Regions from separate parts of the Homo sapiens genome. Here region 2 is linked to region 1. A link means that fine-mapping ties the variant in region 1 to the expression of a gene that starts in the linked region. Tissue or cell type: monocytes. Region 1 holds a variant in brackets; the other region holds the start of a gene. All regions are shown on one strand. Distances are between the middles of the regions.

Evidence for each region. PIP is the estimated chance that this variant, and not a neighbour inherited with it, causes the effect.
Region 2: RBMS2 starts here. The variant in region 1 is fine-mapped to the expression of RBMS2 in monocytes (Fairfax 2014, PIP 0.95).

Annotation. Positions count from the first base shown.
Region 1 is chr12:56,586,545-56,594,633 of GRCh38, reverse strand. RBMS2 (RNA binding motif single stranded interacting protein 2) reads right to left here. Exons shown (of 14, transcript NM_002898.4): 10 at 7,708-7,785; 11 at 6,970-7,080; 12 at 6,260-6,340; 13 at 5,616-5,702; 14 at 1-5,494. The coding sequence ends at 5,622. It also overlaps the pseudogene RNU6-343P. Among named protein-coding and RNA genes, the nearest start is that of BAZ2A, 40 kb to the left of the region's middle. The variant A/G (reference allele first, on the strand shown) is at 4,993.
Region 2 is chr12:56,518,411-56,526,506 of GRCh38, reverse strand. It overlaps RBMS2 (RNA binding motif single stranded interacting protein 2), which reads right to left and starts at 4,687. Exons shown (of 14, transcript NM_002898.4): 1 at 4,418-4,687. The coding sequence starts at 4,483. RefSeq lists an enhancer at 3,509-4,252.

The sequences.
Region 1 (8,089 bases):
AACTCCTATGGAAGTCCATAGCTGACTCCTATGGAAGGCCTACCAAATGAGGAAATTTCAGGAATTTGCTAATGCGTGGGAGGATTGAAAATGTAGGCAGCACAGAAATAGAGTAGTTGGTTTAAACGGGAATCAGGAAGGATTGGTATAACAAGGCACAAGATTTGGAATTTACCCTTTACAGACTGGCTTTTATAACACCCACCCTCGTCTCTGAAGCCTGCTGATTCAGGGCTAGCAGAGCCTAGGGGCAAGTTTGGGCCAGATCACCCACCCAGTTTATTGCCCTTGGCTAAGAATGCAAAGCCCCTCATGAGCGCAATGCTGCCACTTGCCCAGAAGGTGGGGCATGTGCACAAGGCAGCAGCAATAGTTCTTTTCTAGAAGACTAATAGCCACTGCTACTAGGGATTCCTAGGACATTCCAGCAAGGCCTCTCACAGCATCATATGACGCAAAGTAACAGCCCACGGGTTGACATTGGAGTGACAGGCCTCAACTCCCAATGGGTTGACATTGGAGTGACAGGAGTAGGCACTGGAGGCACTAAGGGAGGGTGAGTGAGCTGATTGTCAAGTTAGGAAAGGAAAACGAATGGAGTGGAGCTGAAGTGGCCCAACCCAGCGCATGGCCTGTGAAGCAGCAAAGTCTGGTCTTCATCTTCAATATGAGTAATGTCCTCTTACCACTCCTTATCTGTTACTGACAAGGTCTATTACCCTTTAGAGCCACCAGGCTTCCTGGCCTGGGCAACTCTACAAATTCTTTAGTTAAAAACACTACAAAGGGCCGGGTGCAGTGGCTCACGCCTGTAATCCCAGCACTTTGGGAGGCCAAGGCAGGTGGATCATTTGAGCCCAGGAGTTCAACACCAGCCTGGGCAATGTGGCAAAACCCTGTCTCTACTAAAAATACAAAAATTAGCCAGGCATGGTGGCAGGCACCTGTAATCCCAGCTACTCAGGAGGCTGAGGCAGGAGAACTGCTTGAACCCAGGAGATGGAGGTTTCAGTGAGCCAAGATCACGCCACTGCACTCCAGCCTGGGCGACAGAGCGAGACTCCGTCTCAAAGAAAAAATAAAAATAAAAAAACTGAAAAGGCCAGGTGTGGTGGCTCATGCCTATAATCCCAGCACTTTGGGAGGCCGAGGTGGGTGGATCATTTGAGCCCAGGAGTTCGAGACGAGGCTGGGCAACATGGCGAAAACCTGTCTCTATTAAAAATACAAAAATTAGCTGTTTGGAGGTCAGGAGTTGGACACTAGCCTGGCCAACGTGGTAAAACCCCATCTCTACTAAAAATAAAAAAATTAGCCAGGCATGGTGGCACAAGCCCATAGTCCCAGCTACTTGGTGGCCGGGGAAGGGGTGGCTGAGGCAAGAGGATCACCTGAGCCTTGGGAGGTCGAGGCTGCAGTGAGCCATTATGGTGCCACTGCACTCCAGCCTGGGCCACAGAGTGAGACCCTGTCTCAAAAAAACAAAACAACAAAACCAAAAAACCAAAAACATTAAAAACAACATCTCATCCAAGCATGGAGGCTCACACCTGTAATCATAGCACTTTGGGAGGCTGAGGTGGGAGGCTCACTTGACAGGAGTTCAAGACCAGTCTGGGCAACATAGTAAGACCCCTGTCTCTACAAAAACTTAAAATAACGAACTGGGCTTGGTAGTATGTGCCTGTACTTCCAGCTACTTGGGAGGCTTAGGTGGGAAGAACCCTTGGGCCCAGGAATTCAAGACTGTAGTAGACTACGACTGCATCACTGCACTCCAGCCTGGGTGACACAGCAAGACCATCTCTAAAAAATAAAATAAAGGCCGGGCGCGGTGGCTCACGCCTGTAATCCCAGCACTTTGGGAGGCTAAGGCGGGCAGATCACCTGAGGTCAGGAGTTCGAGACCAGCCTGGCCAACATGGTGAAACCCCATCTCTACTAAAAATAAAAAAATTAGCCGGGCATGGTGGTGGGTGCCTGTAATCCCAGCTACATGGGAGGCTGAGGCAGGAGAATTGCTTGAACCTGGGAGGCGGAGGTTGCAGTGAGCCGAGATCGTGCCATTGCACTCCAGCCTGGGCGACAGAGCAAGACTCTGTCTGAAAAAATAAAATAAAATAAAAACATCTCTCTCCATCATCATCTCCACATCTTCCTGACCTCTCTACTGGCACCCTCCTCCAAAAAGTCCAATCAGTTTAGGGTCTGAGTATCATCTCAGAGCCTGAGATGAGGAGTAATAACACCGATAGGAGATGGCTAGGCAGGCTCAGAGCCTATAAAGGATTATGCCATCTGAGGAAAGGACTCTAGTGTGTTCTAGCTGACTGAAAACAGAAAAATGCCAAGTACTAAAATATTTTAAGAATGTTATGAGCATCTGTAATGAGTGGGGGTGAGATGTAAAGTACAAAGAGAGTAAGAGCTGGGCTCCATGAAGACAGCATTCAGAAAACACTAGGCATAGTGTTTAAGAGCCCAACCCTTGGCTGTGAGCTGGAAGGCTCCCCTATGTTTCCTTCTGCCATCAACCCAACCAATTAGACTATTTCATGGGAGAAACAGTATCCCTCCTTTCTTCTCCCTCCTTTCCTCCAAACACTCACCCACTGTTACAAATGAACTAACAATTAGGAGAGGAAATGAGTGTAAACCAAATGCACCAAAAAAGAAATTCCTCAGTGCCATTAGCCACTGCAAAATAACTTCAGGCCCCCATCACTTCCCATGCCCAAACCAGAAACACTCATTAATACAATCTAACAAGTAGATTCACATGAGAAGAACTCCAAAAGGTAAATTCAAAATTCAAAACAAAAAATTAGAGCCATTTAAACATTTTAAAATATATATATAGAGAGAGAAAGAAGACAGAATCAGGAGTTCTGTGAGGCAGAGGAGAGGGGAGTGGCAATATCAACAATGGTTTCTATGCGTGAAAGGCCCTTCCTAAACCTCCTACCATAGCAAAGCTCCCCCGGTCTATCAGATGAACAGAATTCTAGATTTGTTTTCTCTTTCTCTCAAAGGCCACTGACAAGAAAGCAGCTATGGTATATTTTCCTTGACTGAGGGCTGGAGACTCAAAAACAAAAGCTATCTGCCCAGCCAGAGCCCTCTAGAAGGTTGCTGGGCTTGGGGCTATTTTACACTGGATAAGCCCTTCCTGAGTTTGGAAGCATCAATTAGAAGACTGCGGCAATTTGTCCTTTACGCTTTATATCCTACCCATTGCCCCGCACTCCCTCACCCCTAGGATGTACATAGAAAGTCGACACTAGGGGCACTGGGACTCTCAATTCTAGGGTGGCTGGGAAGGGAGGGAAAGCTGGGCCGAGCTCTACTTGTGACAACTGATACTACAGTTTCTTTTCCCCTGCTGTCACCCCCTTCCTCTCCCTATGGCCAGCCTAATGAACACCTGTCTCTCTATCCTCCATTATTTGCCTTTGTCTGACTGTCTAGTGGAGAGGCACCTGGCCTTGAAGTGCAAGGGAGTCAAATTCTCCTTTCAGTGCATAAGGGAGTGACTGGGAGAAGACAAGAGCAGGATTTTATTTCCTAGAAGATGGGTGAAGTCTTTCTTCAATCTGTCTCCATGTGTATAGAGTCACATCTTGCAGAAGGGGACAGTTAAAGACCAAGACATAGGCTTTTTTAAAGGACTCCTGACCTCATAAAGAGTTGGAATTTATTGCTCTTTGCTACCCTAGCTCCCCGTTGTCCTTCCACAGAAGGAACATTATTTCTGATGTCCTGGTTCCCTGGGCAAAGGGTCCAAGCACACCGGGGCAGGGCAGGTTGCTCTGGACAGTTTAGAGAGCTTTGTCCTTTCCCACCATTGCACAGCACACACCAGAACAATGCCCACCTGAATCCCTCTGAGTACATGTGTGCATTCAGCATGGAGCCACAGCTCTTTCAAGAATCACTCTTGCTATATGCAGAGTTATCAAAAGTCAAAGTCTGGGGAGAATTCAAGGATCCCAGTCCAGTCCTTCCCCAACAGTTGCATGAGTGTCAAAAGGCACTGTTTGTCCAGGGTTGGGGTGAAAATTTACCCTAACCCAGGAGGCAGGGACAACACTGTCTATATCAGTGTTTCCCAGTCTTGGCAATATTGACCCCTGGAGTCAGATAATTCTTGGCTGGGGGTAGTGGGGACTATCCTATGCAGTGTAGGATGTTTAGCAGCCACTAGATGCCAGTAGCACACACATCCCACCTCCAGGCGTGGCAATCAAAACTGTCTCTAGATGTTGCCAAAGGCCTGAGGGACAAAACCACCTCTGATTGAGAACTCCTGGTCTGTGAGTGAAGCAGCAGATCTTCCACCGTGTGGAAGGAGCCTATGTGGATTCAACTAGGTCGCAGCTGCAAAGGCTCTGAGCACAGCAATGTGTAACAGGGAAGAGAGGGGCCATGAAGCCCAGGACAGAAAATATCCTCCAGGAGGCAAGAAAGCAGGTACTCCCAAAAAGCTATACCTCAGATGCTGTTGGCCTTGGCAGTGAGAAGAGTTGATAAAAGTCAGTAAGTCCATTCTTCCGGAACTTGCCAGGGAAGACCTAGTCTTCAACCAAGTTTGGCTCAAGGGTGTGTTCCCAGGGCTGTGGAGTTGTCTCTTTAGTAAGCCTGGGTCACATCTGTGCTTTCTGAAGCCAAAGTCTAGTTTTTTCTCCCAGGGTGTGGCAGGGTGGGGGAAAGAACAGCCACTTCCATGGCCTACTTAGTGTTCTGCCTTGTTCCTTGCCCAGCCTGCCCCCCAACCCCAAATTCCACATGAAATTTCATTTTTAAAAATCCATAAAATTAAAAGCTGTAAAAGGGCAAAGTAGGCAGGCTCAGCTGTTTAGAAAAGAGAAAAAGAAGAATCTGGACAAGAGAAAGAAGGCATAATATGGGTGAAGAGGAGATGGGGTGCATGAGCTGAGAGCTTTACAAAATAACATTTTTAGAGCCTGCATACTTTTTAAAACACATACACAC[A/G]TGCATCAAAAAAGTCCATAACTAAGCTCAGTAAGTAGGGCTCCTTCATCGATGTTCCAGCACCACACCTTTCTGTTCTGTTTTGGTTTGTAAAGAAATAATTACAAATTGTTTTAAAAGCATTCCCAAATAATTCCAATACATCGAAAACTTTTTCATATAGATGAGAAGCTGCGACCACCATGTCTCTTCAAGGTAGGGGAAAAGTACGTTGCAGTTAAAAACAAAAAGCTTTCTTTGCAAAAGAAGAAAAGTTTTTTTGATCTCCTTGAATGTAGCACACAAAAAAAGTGATGGTTCCCCCAGGCTCCATCAGCAATAGTAAAGGGCAGGAACGTAGAGATTTCTTTTTCCAGGCCCAGGCCTGTGAAAAACGATGGCTAAGTGTTAGTCCTTAGCAGGGCCGACGGATGGTCTCCATTCCTGGTTAACCCTCTGGAATCTGGGAGCATGAGTATCTCCAAGAATTCATTTCTATTCAGTAAAGATGGGGAGGGGAATCCTAAAGAAGGCACAAGCCAGAGAGGAGACAAGACAAACATGAGAACCTGTCTGACTTCAGGCCGGGCTGAGCTGCTGTCTGCCAGTGCAGCCCTCCCTGCCCCCCAGCATGTGGTTCTTACCCACTGTTACTTGTTGAACTGGAAAGAATAGACCCCATGCTCTGAGGGTGCGTCCACTGCCACTTGGTTCTGTTGGCCGCTGCTCTCCTGTGCCATAGCCAAGGAGGGGGGTCATCTTGCGCATTCCTTTCCTCACCTCCACTACAGCAGCCTGACCAAAGCCCACCCTACATCGAGTGCCCTCCCAAACCTACCCACTCTCCACACTCATGTGTGAGTGTTTCCACCCACACCACCACTTCCCCAACCTTCCTACAGCCTGTCCTCTTCCCAAGACGCATTAGTCAATACAAGCCAGCATCCTGGTGTCAACTACTGGCTGGCCAAATGTAAGGAAGGGCCTCATTCATGAACTCAGACCAAGTCCTTCTTTCCTACATCTGCTGTTGTTTTTTTTTTAAATATGGAACGCTTCACAAATTTGCATGTCATCCTTGCACAGGGGCCATAATCTTCTCTGTATTGTTCCAATTTTAGTATGCATGCTGCCGAAGCGAGCACATCCTTCCTACGTTCTTCGTATACCTACCAGCTATTTGTGAACACAGAATCAGCATCATTGTGAGAGAAAGATCTTGATCAGGGGGAAACCTGCCTCCGTTCATTTTCCTAATCTCAATCCAAAGAAATGATAACACCCTTACCTCGACTGAAACACTGGAAGAAGGCACAGGGGTGTACTGGGAGATGTAAGCTCCTTGCATAGCTGCAGCCGTCGGCATATACTAGAAAGAGAAACATCAACAGGCTTACAGCAGTGATTTTTGGCTACATTTGAAGCAGCTGAGGGGCTTTAAAAAAAATACTGACACCTGTATTCTACCCCAGAGATTCTATTTTAATTGGTCTGAGCATTTGCATCTTAAAAGCACTTCAGGTGGTTCTAAAGTACACTGTTAGGGAGACGTCTCCCTATATGACTTATTTTCCTCCTCTTTCCTGACTTTCTTCTGCTTTTCCTCAACACACTCCCTTCTCTACCCTTGAGCCCTTTCTATGCAAAAAGGAATGCAGTAGGCCTAAAAGAAACCTAATGAGCTTCCTCCATCCTTCCAGGTACTATTTTGATGAGGATTCCTAGGACGTGTGTGTATCTTAAACTAATATGCAGACAGAAGCACTATTCACAAGGTGCATGAGTAGGAATCAGTTAAAAGGGGTGGGCTGGGGAGCAGAATGGCTGTATTCCTGGCTCATGGAGCACTACCATTGTAGTTTATGTCCTGTTCTGAGTGTGCCCCGGATGACACTGAAGTAATTCCATCATTATTCATAAGTTACTTACGCTGAAGAGTATTACACAGGTATGCCTTGCTCAGTAGGAGAGTTTACAATCAGAAATATCCTGCTTTACCGTGCCTGTGCTGCTGAGGGAGAGATGGCCCAGTTGCTGGGTAAGGGGTCCCATCATGGAGGCAGGCTGGAGAGAAATGGGATGGTCCATCCCTGGTGTCAGAACTGAACCCTAGAGGCAGCAACAAAGGACAGGGTTAGCTGCAGCATCCTGTGAGGCTGCCTAAAGCAGTGATCGGTGGCTGTCAGGACCACTGGAGACAGACATTTAAGAATCCTGGGAAATGGTAAGTGAGCAGCAACCCAACTATGCAACAAGAATAGGAACTCTGCCTGTCAGTGTGGAAGGACCCTCGTCTAAGAATAACAAGCTTAGGTCTTACTGCTGGGTTGCACAAGGGTCTGAGCCAGAACTCACACCCACATCTCCTGGCATCAAAGGCCTTTTTTTTTTTTTTGAGACGGAGTTTCACTCTTATTGCCCAGACTGGAGTGCAATGGCACGATCTCAGCTCACTGCAACCTCTGCCTCCCGAATTTAAGCAATTCTCCTGTATCAGCCTCCTGAGTAGCTGGGATTACAGGCACCCGCCACTACACCTGGCTAATTTTTGGCATTTTTAGTAGAGACAGGGTTTTGTCATGTTGGCCAGGCTGGTCTCGAACTCCTGACCTCAGGTGATTTGCCTGCCTTGGCCTCCCAAAGTGCTGGGATTACAGGCGTGAGCCACAGTGCCCAGCCAGTTTTTTCTTTACATCAAATTGCCTCTTTGGCTTCTGCCCACTTCTGAATACTCACTGAAGGCTGCATGAGGTATGAATGGTGGTGCATCCAGGATGGGTTAGGTACTTGTAGAGGAGATGTCTGAGTCACTCTCTAAAACAAGCAAAAACAAAAATGTTAATTGCCTGGAAACTATTATTCAGCCCACAGATCTAATAATGTTCAACAAAGCTCAGAAAAGTTTGAATGCCCCACTCAAAATAGAAACATTAAGAAAAACTGTTTTTAAAATATTAGCAATTCTTAAAACTCAATAAATAATCCAGTTTAAAAAAGGGCAAAAAGGAGTTCAAAATTATAGTGAGCTATGATTCTGACACTGCACTCCAGCCTGGGCGACAGAGTGAGACCCTGTCACTAAAAAAATTAGTAAAAAAAAAAAAGGGTTTGGAAAGAT
Region 2 (8,096 bases), 68 kb after region 1:
AAGTCCGCCTTTATTAGGCATTATACATTTGTTGACGGCATTCCCATATTTACCACCAGCCAATAAAGAGTAAGAAAACTATGACTGTCATGGGCTCCTCAGGAAACATCTTTCCTGATAAGTGAAGTATGTATTTCAAAATAAAATAATCCTACCTTTTATGTTTTATTTTATTTTATTTTATTTATTTATTTATTTTTGAGATGGAGTCTCACTCTGTTGCCCAGGCTGCAGTGCAGTGGCACAATCTCGGCTCACTGCAACATCCACCTCCTGGGTTCAAGTGATTCTCCTGCCTCAGCCTTCTGAGTAGCTGGGACTACAGGCGTGCACCACCATACCCGGCTAATTTTTGTATTTTCAGTATTGACGGGGTTTCACCATGTTGGCCAGGCTGGTCTCAAACTCCTGACCTTGAGCCATCTGCCCACTTCCACCTCCCAAAGAGCTGGGATTACAGGCGTGAGCACCAAAGTTAAATTTTTACAATAACTTTCATTAGTTTCAGTAAGAAACAGTAACTTTTATATAAAAGTTATATATAGGTAGGGCGTGGTGGCTCACGCCTGTAATCCTAGCACTTTGGGAGGCCGAGGTGGGCAGGTCACTTGAGGTCAGGAGTTCGAGAACAGCCTGGCCGACATGGTGAAACGCCATCTCTACCAAAAATATAAAAAATTAGCCAGGCGTGGTGGTGGGCCTCTGTAATCCCAGCTACTCAGGAGGCTGAGGCAGAAGAATCACTTGAACCCAGGAGTCGGAGGTTGCAGTGAGCTGAGATCGCCCCACTGCACTCCAGCCTGGGTGACAGAGCGAGACTCTGTCTCGAAAACAAACAACAAAAAAGTTATATATAAAAGTTGGCTGAGGTGGGAGGCTCGCTTAAGCCCAGGGGTTGGAGATTGTAGTGAGCCGAGATCATGGCACTGTCCTCCAGCCCAGACTGCAGAGTGATACCCTGTCTCAAAATAAATAAATAAATAAATGGGCCAGACAGTGGCTCACGCCTGTAATCCCAGCACGTTGGGAACCCGAGGCAGGCAGATTGCTTGAGGCCAGGAGTTCAAGACCAGCCTGGGCAACATGGCAAAACCTCGTCTCTACTAAAATTAGAAAATTTAGCTGGGCCTGGTGGCGCACACCTGTAGTCCCAGCTACCCAGGAGGTTGAGGCGGGAGAATCGCTTGAACCCAGGAGACTGAGGTTGCAGGGAGCCAGGATCGCGCCACTGGACTCCAGCCTGGGTGACAGGGTAAGACTCTGTCTCAAAATAAATAAATAAACAAATAAATAAAATTTAACTGAGTATGGAAAATACACAAATTACATAAGCAAATGCATCTACAACCCTTTCCAAAACAGAAACACAGTAAGCCCTACTTGACAAGACAAAGAGCAACGTAATAATGCTATAGTTTAAAAACACCCTCCCTGGTCATCTAGTGTTGAGGAAAAAAATTAAGTAAAATAAAAATAAAAATATGGGGCCAGGCGCAGTGGCTCATGCCTGTAATCCCAGCACTTTGGGAGGCCGAGGCAGGCAGATTACCTGAGGTCAGGAGTTCAAGACCAGCCTGACCAACATGATGAAACCCCGTCTCTACTAAAAATACAAAAAAATTAGCTGGGCGTGGTGGCGGGCACCTGTAATCCCAACTAGTCAGAAAGCTGAGGCAGGAGAATCACTTGAACCCAGGAGGCGGAGGTTGCAGTGAGCCGAAATCACGCCACTGCATTCCAGCCTGGGCGCGACAGAGCAAGACTCCATCTCAAATAAATAAATAAAAATATGGGCCAGGCTTGGTGACTCAAAGTATAATCTCAGCACTTTGGGAGTCCAAGGCAGGGCAGATCACTTGAGGTCAGGAGTTTGAGACCAGCCTGGCCAACATGGTGAAACCCCGTCTCTACTAAGAACACAAAAAAATTGTCCGGGTGTGGTGGCACTCCTGTAGTTCCAGCTACTTGTGAGGCTGAGGCAGAATTGCTTGAACCTGGGAGGCGGAGGCTGCAGTGAGCTGAGATCACACCACTGCACTCCAGCCTGGGTGACAGAGCGAGACTCCATCTCAAAAAAAAAAAAAGTAAAAATAAAAATATGAAAACCCTCCACGTTCACAAACTTATATAGGCACAAAAGGAGTCATATGCATGGCCACAGAGTGATGCACAGATACAGCATCCTTACATCTGATCATAACATTGACTTATAAGAACCCAAAGAATTGACAAATACATTAGTAATTAGTAATTATGTATCTACCTATCCTCCCCAACCAATTCCAACAATTCCTGAATTGTCAAACCTTACTAAGAGATTTCAACCCAAACCCACAACCATACCTCTTGTCCCCTATACTATCCTAGATTTAGAAGCTAATTAACTTTTTCCTATACTCCAAGGTGGGAGAGGGAGCAGAGAGCAAAAAGAGATTTTTAGATAGCTTCAAATACGTGAAACCTCTAATAGGGAAGCAATTCATTTTGGGAATTCATTTTATTTTAATGAGTTCTGGGTAACCTGAGAGAACTAGGAGGGAAAAAAATCAGGAAAGAAATTTTCACATGGTACTCTACAAGGTTTGAAAAGAATAAAGACATGTGAAATATTTCCCTTTCAAATATATACGTATAATATATAATGTATTATCTATACATATATTTGATAAAGGGATGTCAGTATATGTACATATAAACATATATTGATAACCAACAAATGTGTATAAACTCATATTTCATTTCTTTTTGAGATGGAGTCTTGCTCTGTCACCCAGGCTGGAGTGCAGTGGCACAATCCTGGCTCATTGCAACCTCTGTCCCCCAGGTTCAAGTGATTCTCCTGCTTCAGCCTCCTGAGTAGCTGGGATTACAGGCGCGTGCCACCAAGCCCAGCTAATTTGGGGTTTCACCATGTTGACCAGGCTGGTCTCGAACTCCTGACCTCAAGTGATCCACCCACCTTGGCCTCCCAAGTGCTGGGATTACAGGCATAAGCCACCATGCCCAGCCTCATTTCTTTTTTAAAGTAAATTTTATTGTGTATATTTAAGGTATACAACATGTTACGGGATACATATAGATAGTAGAAAGGTTACTATAGTGAAGTAAATTAATCATCCCACATAATTGTCCCTTTTGTTTCTTTTTGTGGCAAGAGGAGCTAAAGTCTGCTCATTTAGCATGAATCCCATATACAGTACAACTTTATCATCTATAGTCCTCATGTTGTACATTGGATCTCAGGATTTGTTCATCCTACATATCTACTACTTTGTATCCTCTGACCTATAGCTCCCCATTTCCTCTCCCCTCTACCCATATTTCTTCAGGATATAAACAAAATGAGTACCACACAGACTAAGCCCATAAATCAACATTAAGTGTTTTGGGTCTAAACATTTACCCACTGCATTGATCAGACACTTGTGTTTAAATCCACCTCTAATGGTCTCATTAGGTACATGAGAAAGCAGCAGGAATCGTTCCTCACCCTCCAACATTCCATTAGATGAGCAAAAGATTCCCTAAATGTCTATGTCACATTTTTTCTTCAAAGAACAGCTACAACACAAAGAGAGGGTAAAGAGTCTTCTTCCTGCTACAGCATGAAATTCCTCCTAATCAGTATGCTGTGCGCCCTGAAATGCCAGAAACTGCCAAATATATTCCTTGTCAAATATGGACAAGATTGTCCATCTCTCCCCATGTGCCCAAGGACAGCACAATTCTCTGGCAGCCATGGGTTAATCATAAAGACTCCTAGGATCACTGCAAAGTCTGGCTATCTGCAGAGGTCCAAGTATCAGTTCAAATACAAGATCCAAAGTATCACAGCGCTCTGTGCCTTAATCCCAAGGTGCGATGTCTCTCAAGACTCCTTCTCTATAGGCTGGGTGGGGTAGGATCTGTAGTCTAGAAGAGTATACCCAGCTCTTGATAAACTGTTGTGGTTTCTCTGACTATCTATGATTTCAGCTATCTAATACTACTGGTGGTATGGGTAGGAGGGAAGGTTGGGGAGAGAATGGAAACAGTTAATCAAAAAATAAAATAATCTTGTGGGGTGGGGTGGACTGGGGGACAGGGTCTGAAATGACATATTATCCTTGTGGAGATTGATACATCAGCAGGAAGTCAAACTAACTTCATTTCATAAGGATACAAACTTGCAAGCTTGATTTGTTTTTAATTCCCCTGTCTTTTCAGGCCTCGCAGAGACTGAAAGTTCCCTGAACTCCAGAACCAGTTGAGGAAAGATGCAGAAAGCAGTAGTGGAAAAGGGAGAAGCGCGGTGAGGAATTAGGAATCTTGAGAGAGGAAGCCCCTTCCCCTCTTTAAAAAGAATGTAAAAACCAAGGGCATTGCAAGATCCCCAGAAAAAGAAGTAGCTAGATACCAAAAAAGCGCTTTTCCCTACCTTCTTGTTGTTTCTATTGTAGCCAAAAGTCGAAATCCCGGGCCTGGAAGTCACGGATAGCAGCATTTTCTCTTTAATGTTAGGGAACGAGCGAGAGAGAGAGAGAGAGAGAAAGGGAGGGGGTAAGAAAGACGGGGAGGGAGGGAGGAGGGGAGCGAGGGAAAGGGGGAGAGGGAGGGAGGAAAAAAGGGAGGGGGAGGAGAAAGGAGGAGAAAAGGAGCAGGAGGAGAGAGATGAAGGGGGGCTGCGGGCAGAGAATGAGCTCGGGCTGCTCCTTTACGTCACTGAGAGAAGTTAACAGAGTCTGAATGAGGCAGAGGCACTTCCACTGGGTCCTAATGCCCAAGATGTTTTTTTTTGTTTGTTTTTCATAGTCTCAGGAGTTAAAGCTAGAAAGAAGAGTTCTTAGGTCTAACCCCTTTCAAATTTATCCCCTTTCCTCTATGAACAAGTTCCGATTCTCATATAAAGACAATGAGGGCTTTATTTCCACCCTTAGATCTCAGCTATAAGATTTCAAGCTTGATTTTAAAGGGGCTCCTGAGACATTGCCTTGGAGAACACGCAAAAAAAAAAAAAAAAAAAAACAGAGTTAGAGTGTGTGAGATAAGCTCAGGGCTTCCCCTACTTTACACTTACAGTGATTTTTTTTTTTTTTTTTTGAGACAGAGTTTTAGTCTGTCACCCAGGCTGAAGTGCAGTGGTGCAATCCCGGATCCGGCTCACTGCAACCTCCACCTTCCGCAATTCTCCTGCCTCAGCCTCTCGAGTAGCTGGGATTACAGGTGACCACCACCACACCCAGCTGATTTTTGTATTTTTTAGTAGGGACGGGGTTTCGCCATCTTGGCCAGGCTGGTCTCGAACTCCTGACCTCAAGTGATCCACCCACTCAACCTCCCAAAGTGCTGGGATTACAGGCATGAGCCACCACCCCTGGCCCATTTATAGTGATCTTAATGTACAAAGGAACAAACAGAGGAACACACCAAAGAGCAGAGCTAAGCAAAACAGAGTATGGGGTATAACTAGTTTCAGATCCTTAGATGTGTTTCTCTTGGGTCATACCAATGGGCTGATGCCCCTCACTCCTATTTCAGATTCTCCGAGGAATGAGTTCATACTTAAGAAGGAATTATCAGACTGGACTATATCATGAAACTTGGTGCCTTGTTATTTCTCTAACAATTGCAGGCTATCTTATTTAACACTTTACCCTGCTATTTCCTCATCTTTAAGATCCATGAAACTGAAACAATTACAGTAACTCACCAAACCTGGAGTTTATGTCTAAATTGAAGTCTACAGTTGGGATGTCTGCTTTGAGTTGTCTTTGAGCTGTTTAAAAAAAAAAAATACTTAAGAAGCATATGCTTCAACAGAATAAAAACACAAAATTCTTAGGAAGGAATACAAATTTCAGAGTCAAGAACCTAATAGAGTTGCAACACTTACCTCTACTAGTTTCCAAAGAATGTCTTTGTAGGCGTAACCTTAACAAGAAAGGAAACCAAAAACTTAAGAATGATATCCAGTAACCCCTACCAATCCAAGTGCAATAGGGATGTTAAATGAAAGCCTTCAAATCCCTTCATAAGGCCACCTTGCTGCCATCCTAAGTAGTTTCTTGAGATATAAATTAACCCTGTCTGTTTTGTGACAACAAATATTAAGCCCAAACCCTCCCTCAAATGAAGTTCTGGTCTCTATTCTAGTTTCCGTGTCACTTTTTTGCTATGATAATGGAACAGACAGTATTAGTATTCTGCAGAGTAAATATACATACCCTACCCCCAATCTCTAACTTTCATTTCCAATAGGACAGGAAGTGCCTGCTCAGCTCAGGGGACACAGGAAGGGTGGGAGAGCCTCAGTGTGGGAATTGCAACTGAGACTGGAAACACAGCAGCCAAATGCAGTAAATAAATAAATGAAGGCATCACTCAGTGATATCTTTTTTTTTTTCTGAGACAGAGTCTTGCTCTGTTGCCCAGGCTAGAGTGCAGTGGTGCTATCTTGGCTCACCGCAACCTCTGCGTCCCGGGTTCAAGCGATTCTCCTGCCTCAGCCTCCCGAGTAGCTGAGACTATAGGCATGCGCCACCATGCCCGGCTAATTTTTTTGTATTTTTAGTAGTCTTGTTGGCCAGACTGGTCTCAAACTCCCGACCTCAGGTGATCTGCCCGCCTTGGCCTCCCAAAGTGCTGGGATTACAGGAGTGAGCCACCGCGCCCGGCCCATATATATATATATATATATTTTTTTAAGTCCTTTTTCTGCTCTCAGAGACTCTCATTAACCAATTTATCCTTGCTGTTTAGGCCCTTGGATGATATCTTCTCCTTTACCCTAACAATGTGGTACAGAAACCTTTCTCTTGAAGGCCTGATTCATAAAGGCAATCAACCCAATTTAACTTTTTTTTTAAGTCTAATTTTTCTTTCTACTTTTTTTTTTTCCCCCTGAGACAGAGTCTCACTCTGTCGCCAGGCTGGAGTGCAGTGGTGCAATCTTGGCTCACTGAAACCTCTGCCTCCCGGGTTCAAACGATTCTCCCGCCTTAGCCTCCTGAGTAGCTGGTACTACAGGCATGTGCCACGACGCCCAGCTAATTTTTGTATTTTTAGTGGAGACGGGGTTTCACCATGTTGGCCAGTCTGGTCTCGAACTCCTGACCTCAGGCAATCCACCCGCCTTGGCCTCCCAAAGTGCTGGGATTACAGGTGTGAACCACGGCACCCGACCGAAAAATCTAAATTTTTATAATCTGGTAAATTAGGACCACAGAAGTAAAATGACCCGGATATGCAAACTGATGCCAAAGGTGTATTATGTTAAAGAGCACCAACAAAACTGGAAACTAAATCCTTCATTCTGGTGAGTATATGTATTATAAACATATATTTTTTTTTATGACAGGGTCTCACTCTGTCACCTAGGCTGGAGTGCAGTAGCACAATCACGGCTCACAACAGGCAGCTTTGACTTCCCCAGGTTCAGGTGATCCTCACACCCATCCCACCCCTCCCCACCCTGTAGCTGGGACTACAGGCATGCACCACCACACCTGGCTAACTTTTGTAATTTTTTTTTTTTTGGTAGAGACGGGGTTTCATCATGTTGCCCAGGCTGGTCTTGAATTCCTCAGCTCAAGCAATTTGCCCACCTCAGTCTCCAAAACTGCTGGCATTACAGGTGAGTATATTTGTAAAGGAGTTATGGAATTCTGTGGAAATGATGGGGAAGGTAATGGTGTTCTGTGGTTAGATTCAGGAAGTATACGGGAGGAGGAAGAATCCTACTTCCTCCAGTGTATTTACTTTGACGCCCTTCTGCTTTGCCCATTACATTGCCCACATTTTTCCAGATTTAGTCAATGCCTCTCTAATTCTTGGTTCTCATGAACCCAGCACTCAGGAATTGTTTTGAAGGGAAAAAAGCAAAATGAGAGTTATCTGTAACTTCTTTGGGGAAGAGACATTTGTACCTGATTCAATATAGGCTTGTTTGTGATTTCTCCAGAAAAACAACTCTTTTAAACAAGTGTCCAAGGTGAAGGAGTAGGGGCTAGGTCAACCCCAAAATGTAGCTGAAAAATGTCCCAGCACTTTGGGAGGCTGAGGTGGGCAGATTGCTTCAGTCCAGGAGTTCAAGACCAATGTGGGCAACATGGCAAAAC